Linked DNA regions of Homo sapiens: region 2 is linked to region 1. The links come from fine-mapping of genetic effects on gene expression. Tissue or cell type: whole blood. Region 1 holds a variant in brackets; the other region holds the start of a gene. All regions are shown on one strand. Distances are between the middles of the regions.

Evidence for each region. PIP is the estimated chance that this variant, and not a neighbour inherited with it, causes the effect.
Region 2: SMAD1 starts here. The variant in region 1 is fine-mapped to the expression of SMAD1 in whole blood (INTERVAL, PIP above 0.99).

Annotation. Positions count from the first base shown.
Region 1 is chr4:145,524,052-145,532,159 of GRCh38, forward strand. The region is part of intron 2 of SMAD1 (SMAD family member 1); the gene reads left to right. Among named protein-coding and RNA genes, the nearest start is that of SMAD1-AS1, 11 kb to the left of the region's middle. The variant C/CG (reference allele first, on the strand shown) is at 4,377.
Region 2 is chr4:145,476,902-145,485,009 of GRCh38, forward strand. SMAD1 (SMAD family member 1) reads left to right here and starts at 4,952. Exons shown (of 7, transcript NM_005900.3): 1 at 4,952-5,137. RefSeq lists silencers at 4,721-4,850, 5,021-5,180, 5,521-5,580, 5,671-5,770.

The sequences.
Region 1 (8,108 bases):
ACCATGCTCAGTCTGGAAGTTCTTTTTTGAAAAAGCACAAGGTCACTACTTAGATTTCTATCCACACAGCCTAGTGGACATGGAGATAAGACAGTGAACGCTTTCCAGGATTTTATCATTGGCATTGGCTTATGGTTGATAATTTTATTATTTTCATCTATAATATTACTAGAAACATGAAATAATATAGTCATGAGTAGGATTTTATACCCAGATCTTTTAGTGGATTCCAGTGTTAAATCCTAGGCAAATGTGAAGCTTGTTATTTTAATTTTTTTTTTCTTTTCTGAGCAACTGTTCTTAAATGCATTTGTGGCATTTGTTTTGGGTTATTAATTGATGAATAGATACTGTTTCAGCCATTACTGTATGTTACTTTTACATAAACTGTAAAAGTACATAAGTTGTTATACATCGATGGAAGCAGACATCTAGACAACTACAATGTGATTTGTTTCTGGGCAGAATTTTTCTATTGCCAAATCTACTTTAATTTGAAATTTTAAGACAGTAGTCTATAGATCATACAAAGTACCTTTCTCATACTTTTGCTTTCCTGACGTTTGTCTTCTGCTTTATTATTTTTCTTCTTATTCTATTTCTGCAGTATTAGGTGGGCAAGAGAAGATATTTTCAGATCTTTCAGATTCATTTAAAGTGCAGCTGTCTTCCACCCTCCATTGCTGGTTCATAGAGCAGAAAGAACACCAGCCAGCCAGCAGCTGTTAAAAAGAAAACGAAAAAAAAAAAAAGTGACTGAAGAAAAACAGCAGTTTTGAAAACCATAGAAAAACATTTGTCATAATATTTTAAATTAAAAGAAAAAAACCAGGCCAATGTTTCCAAGACTAGCTTAGGGTGAAATAATAATTAAGACCTTCTGAATTGTGCTTTTTGGCTTATTATTCCCACATGTGGATCATCCTGAAACAATGATTTCTTGGAGGTTTGAGTAAGTTTTATATGTGGTTGAGTTTAGGAGGAGTCACAGGTGATTTGCCCCATGTGGGAGTGCCCGGTGGCCTTGCTGGATACTTGGAAAAAGGAGAGAAATAGAAGAGGATGGTCGGCTTATGTAATGATCTCAGGCTGATTAATTTGGTTTTACTTTCAGCCTCTTTGGTGCTAGATATCAAAAGGCCAGAGAACAGACCAGAGATTGCTTTCTCTCAAATATATGTTCTATCCCCTTGCCATTTTCCCCTTAAAATGAAAATGTTCTCCGGAAAGACTAAGCATCATGACTAATAAGCATGAATTAGCCAGATCATCAAACCTCTGCCCTGATATTTGGAAAAATGAGATTTGTTTGGGGAGGAGATGGGGAAGCAACAAGGGTTTATTTGTTTTTGAAGAAGCAGAGCTGGAGGATTTGGAGCAGCTGTAGGGTGGATACCATGAGCACTGTGGTAAAAATCTAAGAGGGCTTGCAGAATAGTAGAGCTAAAACCCCCACATTTTGTTAATTTGCCAGTTTGGCTGGGGATTGGTGTAGTTGTTTGATACTGGTGCTGAATCTAGTTTGAATGTCTGCATGCAGACTCGTTTCCTCTGGGTTTGGGCTGGGGTGGGTTGGGCTGAGCTGGGCTGAGCTGGGCCAGGCCTCCTGGTGTATGGGAGATGGAGAGATAATCACTTGCTGCTTACCCACTCCACTTTTCTAATTATCATTGCCCTCAGTCCTCAACAGGATTTCTCTAGCACTGAAGCCTGACCATAATACTCAATTGCAGGTCTGCTCCACATAAAACTATGTAACTAGAGGTAAGTGTAATTTCCTTGATAAAAGATCTAGGGTGTTGGAAACACATTCTGTGGCTTAAATCAAGATTTAGGTCAACAAAGGAGTGTTTGGCAATTTTCCTCCAGTTCTCTAAATTGTAATGTTCATGCTCTGGAATCTTAGCAGGTTTTAAAAATGGAAGATCAGGTTTATATTCTGCTATATCACTACCCTGGTTCTAAAACAGCTCTCCAAGAGATGCTGCTTTTCTTAGTTCTTTATTCTTTCGCATGAGAAAAGACATTTTTTTATCTAAATTGTGGCCTGGCGTGGTCTGGCTTATGTGGTCGCACATCACCTTCACTTGACTAATTGCCCAGTGGCCTGTCTGGGATGTTCAGTGAGAATAAAGTAAAAGAAGAGTGATTTTATAAGGAGCATTTGGACAGCTTATTGTAAACTAAAAATAAACATATAAATAACAGAGTGAAATTGCCTTATATGTTTTTGCCTTTGTTTCCCTGTAGTTTCCCTATCAGTTCTAGCTAGCTAGCTTTGTAGCAGATTTTGCAGTATTTTTTGTGTGTGACAATACCTTTCTTTGAGCACCTGAAAAGTTTACCCAGGGTATGGTGGTGTGCTTGACAGATATTTAAGTAAGATGATCAACTTGGGAGAAAAGTTGTGGATAAATGTCTATTCACATATAACTTACAGCTTTTAAATAGGAAAAATAATAGCTAATCTTAAAATGTTATTTAAGAGAAAACTGATGGGAGCATGTCACAAGGACCCAGAGGCCAGCTTGTGACAAATCTGAGACAATTTGATCAACGGAATAATTAAGGACAGAAGTGAATTATAAACCACTGGGAGAAAAACAGGAATCCATGCTGAAGATGAATGGGGGAGAAGGAAAAGGCTCTTGCTCACAGTAGAATGCCATTGCCAACCAGTAAATGTGGAGTTCTTTAGGATATTCTGGACAATAAGGCCATTTAAAGGAGATATTTATTTCTCTTTAGTAGTTAAAATATGATGGGAAGAATCTAGGGTTAGAAGGGCTGGATTGAATTTTGGCACTTGATAACTTTGACCTTGGGTTAGTCATTTGTCCTCTTTGAGCTTGTGTTTGCTAACCCATAAAATGGGGGAGTGGTTACATCTACTTTTCAGGTTGAGGATAAAGTTAATGCATGTGAAAAGGCTTTATGTACTAATGCATTCTTGAAACAATATGACTGAAATAGTGATACAAGGAACATCACTTCTGTGTATCTTTCTTAGAATAGAAACAAAATTTGTAATGTAAGCAACTTTTCATTAAACAGATATTCAGAAAAGGAATGATATTATTAGAATAAAATATTAATAAAGTTAAAATAGTGACTTTTTATGCTTTCTGTGTGCTGGACACTGTGCTTATCACTTACCATCTATTCTCATTTAATTCTTTTTTTTTTTTTTGAGACGGAGTCTTGCTCTGTCGCCCAGGCTGGAGTGCAGTGGCGGGATCTCGGCTCACTGCGAGCTCCGCCTCCCGGGTTCACGCCATTCTCCTGCCTCAGCCTCCCAAGTAGCTGGGACTACAGGCGCCCGCCACTACGCCCAGCCAATTTTTTGTATTTTTAGTAGAGACGGGGTTTCACCGTTTTAGCCGGGATGGTCTCGATCTCCTGACCTCGTGATCCGCCCGCCTCGGCCTCCCAAAGTGCTGGGATTACAGGCGTGAGCCACCGCGCCCGGCCCTATTCTCATTTAATTCTAACAACGACTGCCGGAAGATGGTACCAATGTGGCTACTGATATGTAGAATTTGAGTAAATTTTTCACACAACTTGTATCTGGAAAGCCAGGATTCAAATTAAAGCCTAACTGCAAAATCCATGCTGCTAACCACTGTGCTATACTGCTTCCCAAAAGAAGTCTTTAATCAGTTTTCTCTCAACAAAAAGGAGGGGCATCCAGAGTTTTTGGTAGTAGAGAATGTGATCATATGTGCACCAGCTGCATGAGTTTTGGATTGCGAGTCCACATCTGCCCTTGAAGTGTTTATGGAGGCTTCTGTTTATTTCCCATTGATCAGTAATTTTTTTTTTTTTTCGAGACAGAATCCCACCCTGTCACCCTGGCTGTAGTGCAGTGGCGCAACCTTGGCTCACTGCAACTTCCACCGCTCCCCGCCCCGGCCCCGGCCCTGGGTTCAAGTTATTCTCCTGCCTCAGCCTCCCGAGTGTCTGGGACTACAGGCATGCACTACCACTCTCGGCTAATTTTTTTGTTTGTACACACACACACACACACACACACACACACACATACACACACATATATTTTTTTTTTTTTTGAAATTGAGTCTCACTCTGTCACCAGGGCTGGAGTGCAGTGGCACGATCTTGGCCCACTGCAACCTCCACCTCCTGGGTTTAAGTGATTCTCCTGCCTCAGCCTCTTGAGTAGCTGGGATTACAGGCGCCCGCCACTACACCCAGCTAAATTTTTGTATTTTTAATAGAGTCAGGGATTCACTATGTTGGCCAGGCTGGTCTCGAACTCCTAATCTTGTGATTTGCCCTCCTCAGCCTCCCAAAGTGCTGGGATTACAGGCGTAAGCCACTGCACCCGGCCTAACTTTTGTATTTTTTAGTAGAGA[C/CG]GGGGGGTTTCACTATGTTGCCCAGGCTGGTCTCGAACTCCTGACCTCAAGTGATTCACCCACCTTGGCCTCCCGGAGTGCCAGGATTACAGGCGTGAGCTACCGCGCCTGACCATAATGTTCTTTATTAGATACCAAGTATCTCATTTTCGTGGAATATATTTAATTGCATCAAATATAAACTCAGAATGAGCTGAATATAATTAATTCAGCTGCAGTTACAAATTAAAGATGCCTGGGTGACACCTAGGTTAATCATTTACATATCAATCGTGCAATAGATGAATAGACACCATAGGCTAACTGCTCTTTGTGTAATGACTACCTCTTACTGTGTGCTTATGGAACTTTGTTAAAACTAACTTGTGCAACGTTGAGAGACACCATAGCACGGTGGCTAAGAACTTGGACTGCAGTGCCAGGCTGCCTAGGTTTGAATCCTGTCTTCCCTGGTTATTGGTGATACATTCTCTATCTCATTCTCTATATCTCATTTTCCACTTTTATAAAGTAGAGGTAATGTAGTACCTAGGATCAGAGTTGTTCAGAGGATTCAATGAGTTAATATCTGGTACAGCTTGGTATGTGGCACTTGGTACACACATGTATAAGCACCATATTAAAAGAAAATCTGAGAAGTACTATTATTCCTATTTTATTATTAAAAGTGAGGTTTAAATAGTAAATTGCCCTAGTTAATCGGCTAGTAAATAAGCAGAATTTCCAATTTTGGAACTGAGAAACTAAAACCTGCTTCTGACTGTTACTATACTTCATGTGTGGCTTTTGAAGGTATTTTTTTTTCTCCTGATGTTTTTAGGTTATACCCTGAAGTTTTTTTCTACCTCTAACAACTCTCGAAGTCTCTAATAACAGAGCACCTTCCTTCTGTGGAAGTAAAGCAGATAAATACTTGGCAAAAGAAAGGAAACTACCAGGGTGAAAGTAGGAAGAGAAAAGACAGAGAGGGAACTAGGTTTGACAAACTGCTGTGTGCCACCATTCTTGATTCTCAGAGTGCTGTTAAGGGCTTGCTATCCCTTTGGGGAAACTGAGGTGGGAATTTATGCCACCTAAATTCATACAGCTAAGACCGTGGGCTATCTTGATCCCAAGCCAGTGCTTTTTCCATGACAACATGCCTCTTGACCAAAAAAACTGGGCCCTGTAAATTTTCTGTAAGCTTACTATAAGGCCATGCCAGCCTTTTCCATGTCATTTGGATTTATATCTGTATACTGTCAAAGAATCAGGACCAATACTGTGTAGAGTTTTTTGTAAGTGAAAGGGATGATCTCTAGAAATTTGACTTAAGATGAGAAAAATTGAAGTTCAAGTTCCACAGCTACTTAGAGACATAGATAGGGCCAGACACCTAGCTCTCTTGCCAGTGCATGTAGTAACCATTTGTCTTCCTGTACCTAGGCTGTATTCACCCAGAATTGCTGAAGGTTTTGACTTGTTATATCTGGGATGAGGTATAAGAATCTGCCTTTTTAAATAAGTATCTAATTCAGGTGCAAAGAGTCTGAGGGCTGAACTTTGAGAAAGACTGGTTTATATGAACCCACTTATAGTAGACAGGTCAGGAATAGCAATACAATTTACAAACATATTGAAAAAACATTCATTCTGGACCTATTAGGTGCCAGACACTGGCACCTATTTCCTTTCAAAAGAAAGAAAATCAGTTCTACCCACAAAGGCATTACAGTCCAGGTGAAGTAAAGTCAACTTAGCAATAAAATGTTGCAGATGCTACAATGAAAGTCTGTGTAGGGCACACTGAGGCATAGGGAGGAATTCTTTTCTACCAGGGGTGGATAGAAAGACCGGGAAAGGCACCATGGGAGTGCTGTTAGAACTGAGACTTGGAAATATGGCCAAGTGAGCAAAGGTGCAGAAGTATGAAACTAGCAGATGAAAACTGCAAAAAGCCACAAAGATAGGTTGAAGCAGGAATCTGAACTAGGTTATGGAGTCATAGCAGACGTTCTGTGGGTGCCCAGAGAAGGTATTTTTCAAGAAAATAATCTGTGGTATACAAAAAGAATCATTGGCCTGGCATTATCTAGGAAGTTGGATTCTCAGAAGTTGAGTTAGATTTAGGTGATTTTTAGGTAAATTTAGTGGCTTTTGTTTAATGCTTTATGATATTGTTGAATGAAATTCATTTATCTATGTCAAATTATGTTCACATCTTTGTCTTTTAATATATTTGTACTTGAGTAACTATACTCCCAGAAAGTAAATACTACCGTGTTGCTACCTTTAGGCAAAACTATCATACCTTTTAAAAAGATCTTGCCCCCAAAAAAACAAACAGAAGGATGGAAAAAGAATTTAAAAAACAACTTCCACAGTCTCTTTCCAGTTTTATAGTACTGAGTGATTGTCTAGTGGTTATGAGCAGACCTTGATTCACATCCTGGCCCTCAATTAGCAGCTGTGTGACCTTGCATGGGTTACTTAGCTAGGCTGAGCCTGATCCTTCACCTGTAAAACAGAGATAACTGCTGTGAGGATTTAGTGATAGACACTTTTCCCAATGGGCAAGGACAGTGTCTGTCCTGTTGACTCATACCTGCAGTGCCCTGCATGATGGAGGCATATATGGTACCCAGTGAACCTTATATTATAGACCCTCCGTACTATCACCTCATCACCAATAAGCAGACAAAAAAGTGCCACCACTCAGGGGTTTAGGCTGTTATATATTTTCATTAAAATTTAACCTCTATTGAGGTTCCAAGAATCATTTCTTCAGCGTAAAGTTTCCCTGACATATGCTGAGGTAAGGAATTTTATTTCATAAATGTGTATACTATTAATTTTAAGTGTTCTTACTCTTACCCTTTCCGGCACTTCCTACTTGAAGTGTCTCTGTTTAGAAGGTCACTGAACACACTCTACTGGGGACATCTGTCTCGTGTAGGCATCATATTGGGCACAGCTGCTCTGGCAGCTTGCCCTCCCTTTCTCACAAGAATTGCTGCAGCTGACTGGCTCTGGGGCCATTCTGTCCCTAGCCCTGGGCCTCCTTTCTGCTTGTAGGTGGCCTCACTGAAATGTCCTGAGATTCAACTTAGATGCCATCTGGGGCTGAGCTTTGGACATTACAAAACTCCAGGTGTACATGAGCAGCATTCTCATCCATCAGAAGACTTGCAGAATTTAGAGCAGGAAGACCCTGTGGAGAGCAAGTTTCTTGCTCTTTTGTGTGAGGAAACTGAGTCCCTGAGACATTAAGTGATTGGCTCAAAGTCACAAAGGTGGTTACGGGAGTCAGGACTAGAACTAAGGTGTCTTGACTCTAACCTAAATGCCTTTACCACCTTCTCAGAACTAGAAAGCATTTCTGTACTGCCAGGTAACAGGTAGCTTGTGTCCGTTACTTCTTTTTTTTTTTTCTGTTACTTCTATATGGGCAAACATATATCAGAACTCTCTTGCGTGTTTAAAAAAGAAAAAAGCTGCTTTCTCACGAACATTTGGTGGGTCACAGCCCACGTGGGGATTTGTCAGACTTTGTCTCATTACTAGACTACTTTACCACTGACAACTTGGTGATAGAATTTCAAGCAGTACTTCAAAATCTTAAAAAAGCTCTCACATCTAGAGTTTACAGGAATCCTTTCCAGAGCTCAGCCCCTCTCTACAATTTTAACTGTTCTTTTTCATGCTTTTCCGTGTACCTTAGCAACGCTGAAAAGCTGAGTATAATAGCAGAAT
Region 2 (8,108 bases), 47 kb before region 1:
CCTGCCCCCCAGCTTTTCAGTGGATGTGTAAAGTAGACTCAGCTTCTAGGTCTTTACACTTGCTCTTCCTTTTGCTTGGGAGGTTGGGAACTCATCCCTCAGAGTGTGTACTGTGCTTCCTTCCCTTCCTTCAGGACCTCTTGCAGTGAGGTTTCCTCTGCCCCTTTAGAAATAGTCATCTCTCCCATTCTCAATCCCTCTTCCCCTGTTTTTTCCATCACTTGTACCACTACCTAGCATATTTGCGTATTTATTTATTTATTTATTTATTTTTTTTTTTGAGATGGAGTCTCGCTCTGTCGCCCAGGCTGGAGTGCAGCGGCACGATCTCGGCTCACTGCAACCTCTGCCTCCCGGGTTCAAGTGATTCTCCTGCCTCAGCCTCCCAAGTAGCGGGGACTACAGGCACATGCCACCATGCCCGGCTAATTTTTTTTTTTTTTTGTATTTTTAGTAGAGATGGAGTTTCACCATGCTGGCCAGACTGGTTTTGAACTCCTGACCTCGTGATCCATCCACCTCGGTCTCCCAAAGTGCTGGGATTACAGGTGTGAGCCACCACGTCTGGCCGTGTATTTATTTATTATCTGTCTTCCTTAATGAGGGCAGGGATTTTTTTCTGCTTGCCACCATATCCCCTGCTAGAACAGTGCTTCACTTACTCATTCATTCAACAGGTATTTAATATGCTCCTGTTAAATACCAGGCACTGCTCAGGTGCTGAGATTATAGCAATGAACACAGAAGACCAAAAATCCTGCTCTTTTGGCTAAATAATACGGAGACATTTGAGTGAAGACTTGAGGGAGATGAAGGAGTGAGCCATGTGGACATCTGTGGGAAGAGCTGTCCAGGGAGTGCTATGGTTTGAATGCATTCCCCAAAGTTTATATATTGTAAACTTAATCCCCAGCGCAACAGTGTTGAGAGGTGAGAACTTCAAGAGGTGATTATGTCATGAGGACTGTTAAATTAAGTTTAGGCTAAAGCTGCCTCCATATATATATATATACGTATATATACATATGTACATATGTATATACATATATATACACACACATATATATATATATATATATATTTTTTTTTTTTTTTTTTTGAGACGGAGTTTTGCTCTTGTTGCCCAGGCTGGAGTACAATGGCATGATATTGGCTCACCGCAACCTCCGCTTGCCGGGTTCAACTGATTCTCCTGCCTCAGTCTCCCGAGTAGCTGGGATTACAGGCGTGAGCTACCACGCCCGGCCCATACATATTTTAAGTTAGGCCTAAAGGTTTCTCTGTACACAGCAAACTGTAACCTAACTGGATATGCAAACAGACTGTAGCCAACTCTTGTACCAATCACAGAGTTTTGGTCAATCACAGGCAGCCAACTGTTCAAACTGTGTTAAAATAAAGCAAATATTTAGCTCTAACCAATCCAGTTTTTTCTGTACCTCACTCCATTTTCTGTCACTTTTCTTTCTCTGCCCATAAACATCATCTGACCCTGTGGCAGCCCCAGAGTTGCTCTGAAACTATTCTGGTTCTGGGGGCTGCTCAGTTCTCAAATTGCTCTTTGCTCAATTAAACTCTGTTAAATTTAATTTGCCTAAAGTTTTTCTTTTAACAGGGATCTGTCCTCATGAATGGATTAATGGCATTATGGGAGTGCGGTTTGGTATCTCAGGAGGGGATTGCTGATATAAGCATGAGTTTGGCCCTTTTCTACCCTTCCTCTCATGTTCTCTCTCTTGCTATGTGATGCCTTCTGCTATGTTGTGATGAAGGAAGAAGGCCCTCACCAGATGCAGCCCCTTGATTTTGGATTTCTCAGCCCCCAGAACCATGAGCTAAATTAACTTTTATTGTGTATAAACTGCCCAGCTGGTGGTTGTATTGGTCCATTTTCATACTGCTATGAAGAAATACCCAAGACTGGGTAATTTATAAAGAAAACGTGGTTTAGGGCTGGGTACGGTGGCTCACGCCTGTAATCCCAGCACTTTGAGAGGCCAAGGCAGGTGGATCACCTGAGCTCAGGAGTTTGAGACCAGCCTGGCTAACACCACAAAACCCCGTCTCTACTAAAAAATACAAAAAAAGATTAGCCAGGCGTGGTGGTGCATGCCTGTAGTCCTAGCTACTTGGGAGGCCAAGGCAGGAGAATTGCTTGAACCCTGGAGGCAGAGGTTGCAGTGAGCTGAGGTTGCATCACTGCATTCCAGCCTGGGTGACAGAGTGAGATTCTGTCTCAAAAAAAAAAGGTTTAATGGACTCACAGTTTTACACGGCTGGGGAAGCCTCACAATCATGGCAGAAGGTGAAGGAGGAGCAAAGGCACATCTTACGTGGCAGCAGGCAAGAGGGCGTGTGCAGGGAAACTGCCCTTTATAAAACCGTCAGATTCTCATGAGACTTATTCACAATCACGAGAACAGCATGGGAAGAACCCACCCCCATGATTCGATTACCTCCCACCAGGTCCCTTCTATGACACATGGAGGTTATGGGAGCTACAATTCAAGATGAGATTTGGGTGGGGATACATAGCCAAACTCTATCAGTGGTATTCTATTACAGCAACACAAAATGAACTCAGAAAGGGAGGGAACAGCTAGCACATAGATACTGAGGTGAGAATGTGCCCAGATTGTTCCAGAAGAGTGAGGATGCCAGTGTGACTTGGGGAAGTGAGCAAGAGGAAGAGTAGAAGTGCAGGTCAGAGTGCTAAAGGAGGGGAAGGAAAGATTATGTAGAGTCTTGTGCTTATTATGGGAACTTTTATTCTGAGTGAAATGAGGACCCAAGGGAGGATTTTTTAAAAATTTAATAAAATGATATTAATATACAGTCCATATTTAGGTTTTTATAATGGTCTCATCAATGTCCTTTTAAAAAGAATATCCAAATTTTTATTATCATTTAAGGAAATAATTTGCACAATGGGCAAAATCAAATTTTATTGCATACATAATAATATTAATAGTTATCATTTAAGACTACTAGGACTGCACTAAGAAAGGCCATCTAGGCTGGGCGCGGTGGGTCATGCCTGTAATCCCAGAACTTTGAGAGGCTGAGACGGGTGGATCACTTGAGGCCAGGAGTTTGAGACCAGCCTGGCCAAAATGGTGAAACCCCGTCTCTACTTAGATGGGCGTGGTGGTGTGTATCTGTAGTCCCAGCTACTCGAGAGGTTGAGGCAAGAGAATTGCTTGAACCCGGGAGGCAGAGGTTGCAGTAAGCCGAGATCGTGCCATTGCACTCCAGCCTGGGCGACCGAGCGAGACTCCGTCTCAAAATTAAATAAATGCCATTTTTGATTTTTTTAAAAATTAACGACTTTAAAATGACAGTTTATAGCTCCTCCTCCCCATTCAGGATCCAATCAAGGTCATATACTGCATTTCATTGTCATGCTTTTTTTTTAATAGCTTGAGGTAAAATTCACATACCAAATGATTGACCCATTTAAAGTGTGCAATTTAATGGCTTTTGGTATATGCACAGAGTTGTGCAACCATCACCAGAAACTAGTTTTAGAACAATTTTGTCACCCCATAACCTTTAGCTGTCACTCCCCAGGTTCCTCATTTCCCCAACCCTATGCAAACCACCAATCTACTTTCTGTCTCCATAGCCTTGCCTACTCTGAGCATTTCACATATGTGGAAGAATACAATGTGTGGTCTGTCTTCTTTCCCTTCACGTTTTGAAAGGTTATCCATGTAGCATGCATCAGTATCAGTACTTCATTCCTTTTTATGGCTGAATAATGTTCTCTTGTATGGGATACTTTATACTATTTATCAAGGGAGGGTTTTCAACAGAGGAGTGGCCTGATCCGAGTGGCATTTAACAAGGTTCACTTTCCTGTTGTTCTAAGGAGCAGAGAATGATCAACTGCGTCAAACGCTGCTTTTAGGGAAAATAAGATGAGGCCCACGAATTGACCAGTAAGTGCTCAAATAGGTTAAGGGAAAAAGGAATTTAATTAGAAGACATATTCTGATATACATTGCTGGGAGTGATTTTTTTTTTTTTTTTTTTGCTTCATGTGAAATTTATTCCTCAAAAAAAAATCATTTTTTCTAAACGTAACTCAACATTATAGTAATTATGCAAGATTTTATGCAGCTTCAAGAGTTAGCCAAGAGAAAAGTTGACTCTTGCAAGAAGATATTTTCAATGTCTATGCAGATCAGGTAGGTAAGAGTTAAGTGCGGGGGAGTTGGCATCATCTAAAAGACTGTAGAAATTGGACCAAAAATGTGGAGTTCTAAAGCAGTATCTCCTTATGGCATGCCATTATTTGGAGCAACAAGGTTACCTACTCGAATCACTGGATCCTGAGTTGACACAAAACGCATCTGTTGACTCAGGGTTTGTATAACCACGTGCAGTATTTACTAGGCTATCCAATTCTGGGTACGTACAACTTCTGGGGCCTGCAAATTATTGGAGAGTGAGTGAGGGGCAACGAAAGATAGACATAAAAGGGCGCGTCTCGAAAGGTAACTGTCAACATGCACTCCACGTTTATAGAACGATTCAGTGGGCGCGGTGGAAGCGTTAATGAACATTTCAGAAAATAAACATATGGAACATCGAAATTCACTTGCAGATAATGGACTAAGTCCGCTCCACCGGGACTAAAAAGGCAGGGTTAGGAAAGCCTGAACGCCGCCACACTGTTTTTTCTCCAGGAAGAAACGGGGCGTGGGGCTGCCGGTAGAAGGGGGTGGCTCCGGCCGCTCCCCCGCGCCGTCCTCCGGCCCCGGCCGCGCTGCGCTCACGCCGGCCGGGCCGGGAATTTGGAGAGGATCCCTGGTCGCGCGGCAGCGGCGGCGGCGCGCGGGTGAGCGGGTGAGCGTGTGAGCGGGCGGGCGGGCAGGCGAGTGCGCCGGGTATTGGCAGCTGAGGAGTGGAGGCTGGGCAGCTCCGACTCCCTGACGCCAGCGCGACCAGATCAATCCAGGCTCCAGGAGAAAGCAGGCGGGCGGGCGGAGAAAGGAGAGGCCGAGCGGCTCAACCCGGGCCGAGGCTCGGGGAGCGGAGAGTGGCGCAGCGCCCGGCCGTCCGGACCCGGGCCGCGAGACCCCGCTCGCCCGGCCACTCGTGCTCCCACACGGACGGGCGCGCCGCCAACCCGGTAAAACGAAACAGACCCGAACCGAACTTTCCCTTCATGCCGCGTCCCAGCCCTCCCCTCGGCGCCCCGGGCTTTCCAGCGCCGCCGCCGCCGTCTCTGCACGCGTGGGGCCGCCGCGGTCGTGCTGGGCTGGGGGCGCGGGCAGCGGCGGGAAGGGGGCTCTTTCTGCGCGGGGCGGGCCGCGACCCCCCCCCCCCATGATGGCGCCTCCCGTCTGCTCGGAGGAGCGAACCTGCTACCACGTCTTCTCGCGCCCAGCCCGCCGGGCTCCCCTGGTGTCTTTGTTGGGTCTTCTGCTGTGGGAAGCCCAGTTCCCGGGCCCCCGAGCCTCGGCTCCCGGGCCTGACCGCGCTGGGATCTCCCCGGCCGCGCTCCCCTTCCGCGCGCTCCTCACATCTCTCCCGTGCTGCCGCCGGGCCGAGGCCCGTTCGCGTGGCCCGCGGACCCATTGTGTCCCCCGCGCCGGCGGGGCGACCCCTGCGGGAGCTGGAGGACGACCGCTGGCGCTGCTCTCCAAGGCGCCTGGTGGAGCGGGTCTCGCGGGCGGGGGACCCCGGCGCCCCGGGCCCCTCCACATCCCGCACGGGTTTTCTTCTCGGCCCCAGCAAGCCTCTTTGGGGTCGAGGTCAAGGAAAGTTCGCACCGAGATCCCCTCTAATTTATTCAAAGGTTTGGCGGCGGCGCGTAATTTTTTCCCCCTCTTCCGCCTACACCCGCTGCGTCTCCTGGTGTCTCGTTCCTTTCCCTTTACCGGAGTCGATTGCCTCACTGCATGTGTATTCGTGAGTTCGCGGTTGAACAACTGTTCCTTTACTCTGCTCCCTGTCTTTGTTAGTGTTTCTCGGGGTTGTTTCTGTAGGAAGGTGGGGGTGGTGGGCGTGAGAGACAGATGTGGGCTTGTTTTTCTAGTTGCTGAAACTGTATGAAGGCTTTAAAGGGAGAACGTTTTCTTGATGTGCTTTAGGAGGGGAGGAGGAACAAATGCCTGCCAGATCTCACAGCTACAGTAGCTGAGCTTTTGTTTATTTTGAAGAGCATGCAATTTTTAAATACACGGTGCAAGATAACCAGTAAAGGCGCGTTCCTTCTGAAAATTGAGGCCGGTCTCAGAACCATCTCCTGAGAAAGCATCCTTTTCGTGAGTGCTGAGACAACTGTCCTTTTTCTCTGCCCTCCCCCCTCTTTTCTTTCCATTGTATCTGAAGTTTCAAAGTACGTGGAATGATACAGAAGTTGCATGATTTCTGTTATTTCTTCCTGTTGCTGAAACTCTCAGCCGCTAAATCTCAGAATGCCTCTATTTCAGAACATCTCTGGGTCTAATTGCCTGTTGTGGATAACTTGCCCACACCTCAGTAACACAATGAGAAAACTGTTCCCTGCCCATGTTGATTTTTCAAATTGTTTGTAATTACTTTAAATTGTATTGAAGGTAGGTGGACCGTGTTAAAAAAGAATCGGAACAGAAGTGTTCACTGCCCCAGCATTTTCAATTGGTATAAATATTGTTGCATCAGTGTTATTCTGATGTAGGTGCCAGATCTAAATATGCTGTACTGATTAAAGTGTTTGTTCTGCCCTCTCCCACTCTCTTTCCCATTTGCAATTATTTGCTATTTCTGTGCAGGTGGTGTATCATTGGTGTAATACTGCAGTTCTTAGGAAGGTGTAGCTAGGGTCGTGAGAGATGATTTTTCTGGAGGTGGGTGATGCCAGAGCCTCTAGAGGATCCAGGCAGGATCGAGTTTCTTCTGAGGGTAGGGATTTGTCCTTGATTTAGTTTTGACCCCTACAACCATAGGTATGTAACCAAATACATTTTACCTCTTGCAGTATCCTTTGGTTTCGTATCCTTGAAGAGCTGATGACCTTTGTGTTTTAGAGAAATGACAATTTTTAGGCAATTAAAGACATTGGCCTCTTACACTTCTTGGAATTTTATGTTATTTTTACTAAGTTCATTAAGGCATTAAGAGGAAGTTGTCACATTTTCTCAACTACGTTTATTACATTTATTAGTTAAAAACTAAATTTCACTTTGTAATTTTGATTTCTAGCAATTCTGGGTTAAATATTAAATCTAATAACCTAGTAGATTGGAAAAAGAAGTAGCTTGGGTATAGTAATTAGACTAGCATGTTTAAGCTGCAGTAGCCTACATAATCAAGGCCAAGTGTGTGTGTATAAAAGATCTCATTTGTGTAGTCTTACAAGGCTAATGGAGGCATCACTGAGGCTTTATAAATAATGTAAGTTGGGTATAATGTAGAGTCTCCAGAGACGGCAGAGAAAGCATCATTACCAGCCTTTTCAACCTGCTTGAGATCTTAAATTGATTTACAGCACTGAACTGGTGCAAAATGATACATCAGGATGACATGGGGTCAGCCTGTAAAAGTCTATGATGTCAGCCTATTAGTTCAGTCATCATAATTAAACCATATTACAGGGGTAGCTAAGCAGGAGTCTGGCGTTATACTTCAGATATGGGTGGTACATGGGTTTTGTTTATAGTGGAAAGGCTGAGATGGCCAGGGATACCAGTGTGTGTGAAAGAGGGAAAAGGCTTACAGAACTATGAATTTCTGTAGAAAAATTTAAGATAAATGCAGAGATATTCAATCTGAATTGTATAAGTAGCTTTTCATTTGGTAGAGGAGAAACAGATGCTTTAGGGATGCTGATAAGGACCTTTGCAGCTCTGATATGTGTACTGAATGCTTCATGTGAGTTTGAATTTAACTTGGCCTTAGGGACCTTATAAAATATCAGTGGACCACATACTTAACTTTGATCCTTTTATTACCCCTGAATTTTCACTGTATTGATATCTACTGACATGTTATTTCTTTAACTAGTCAAACTTACCAGGCCTATACCAGAAACAAAGATATTTGAATTGAACATATAAACAGTTCAGGAAAAGAAGATCCTTATTTTGCTTAAGTTTCTGACAATCCTTATTTAGCTT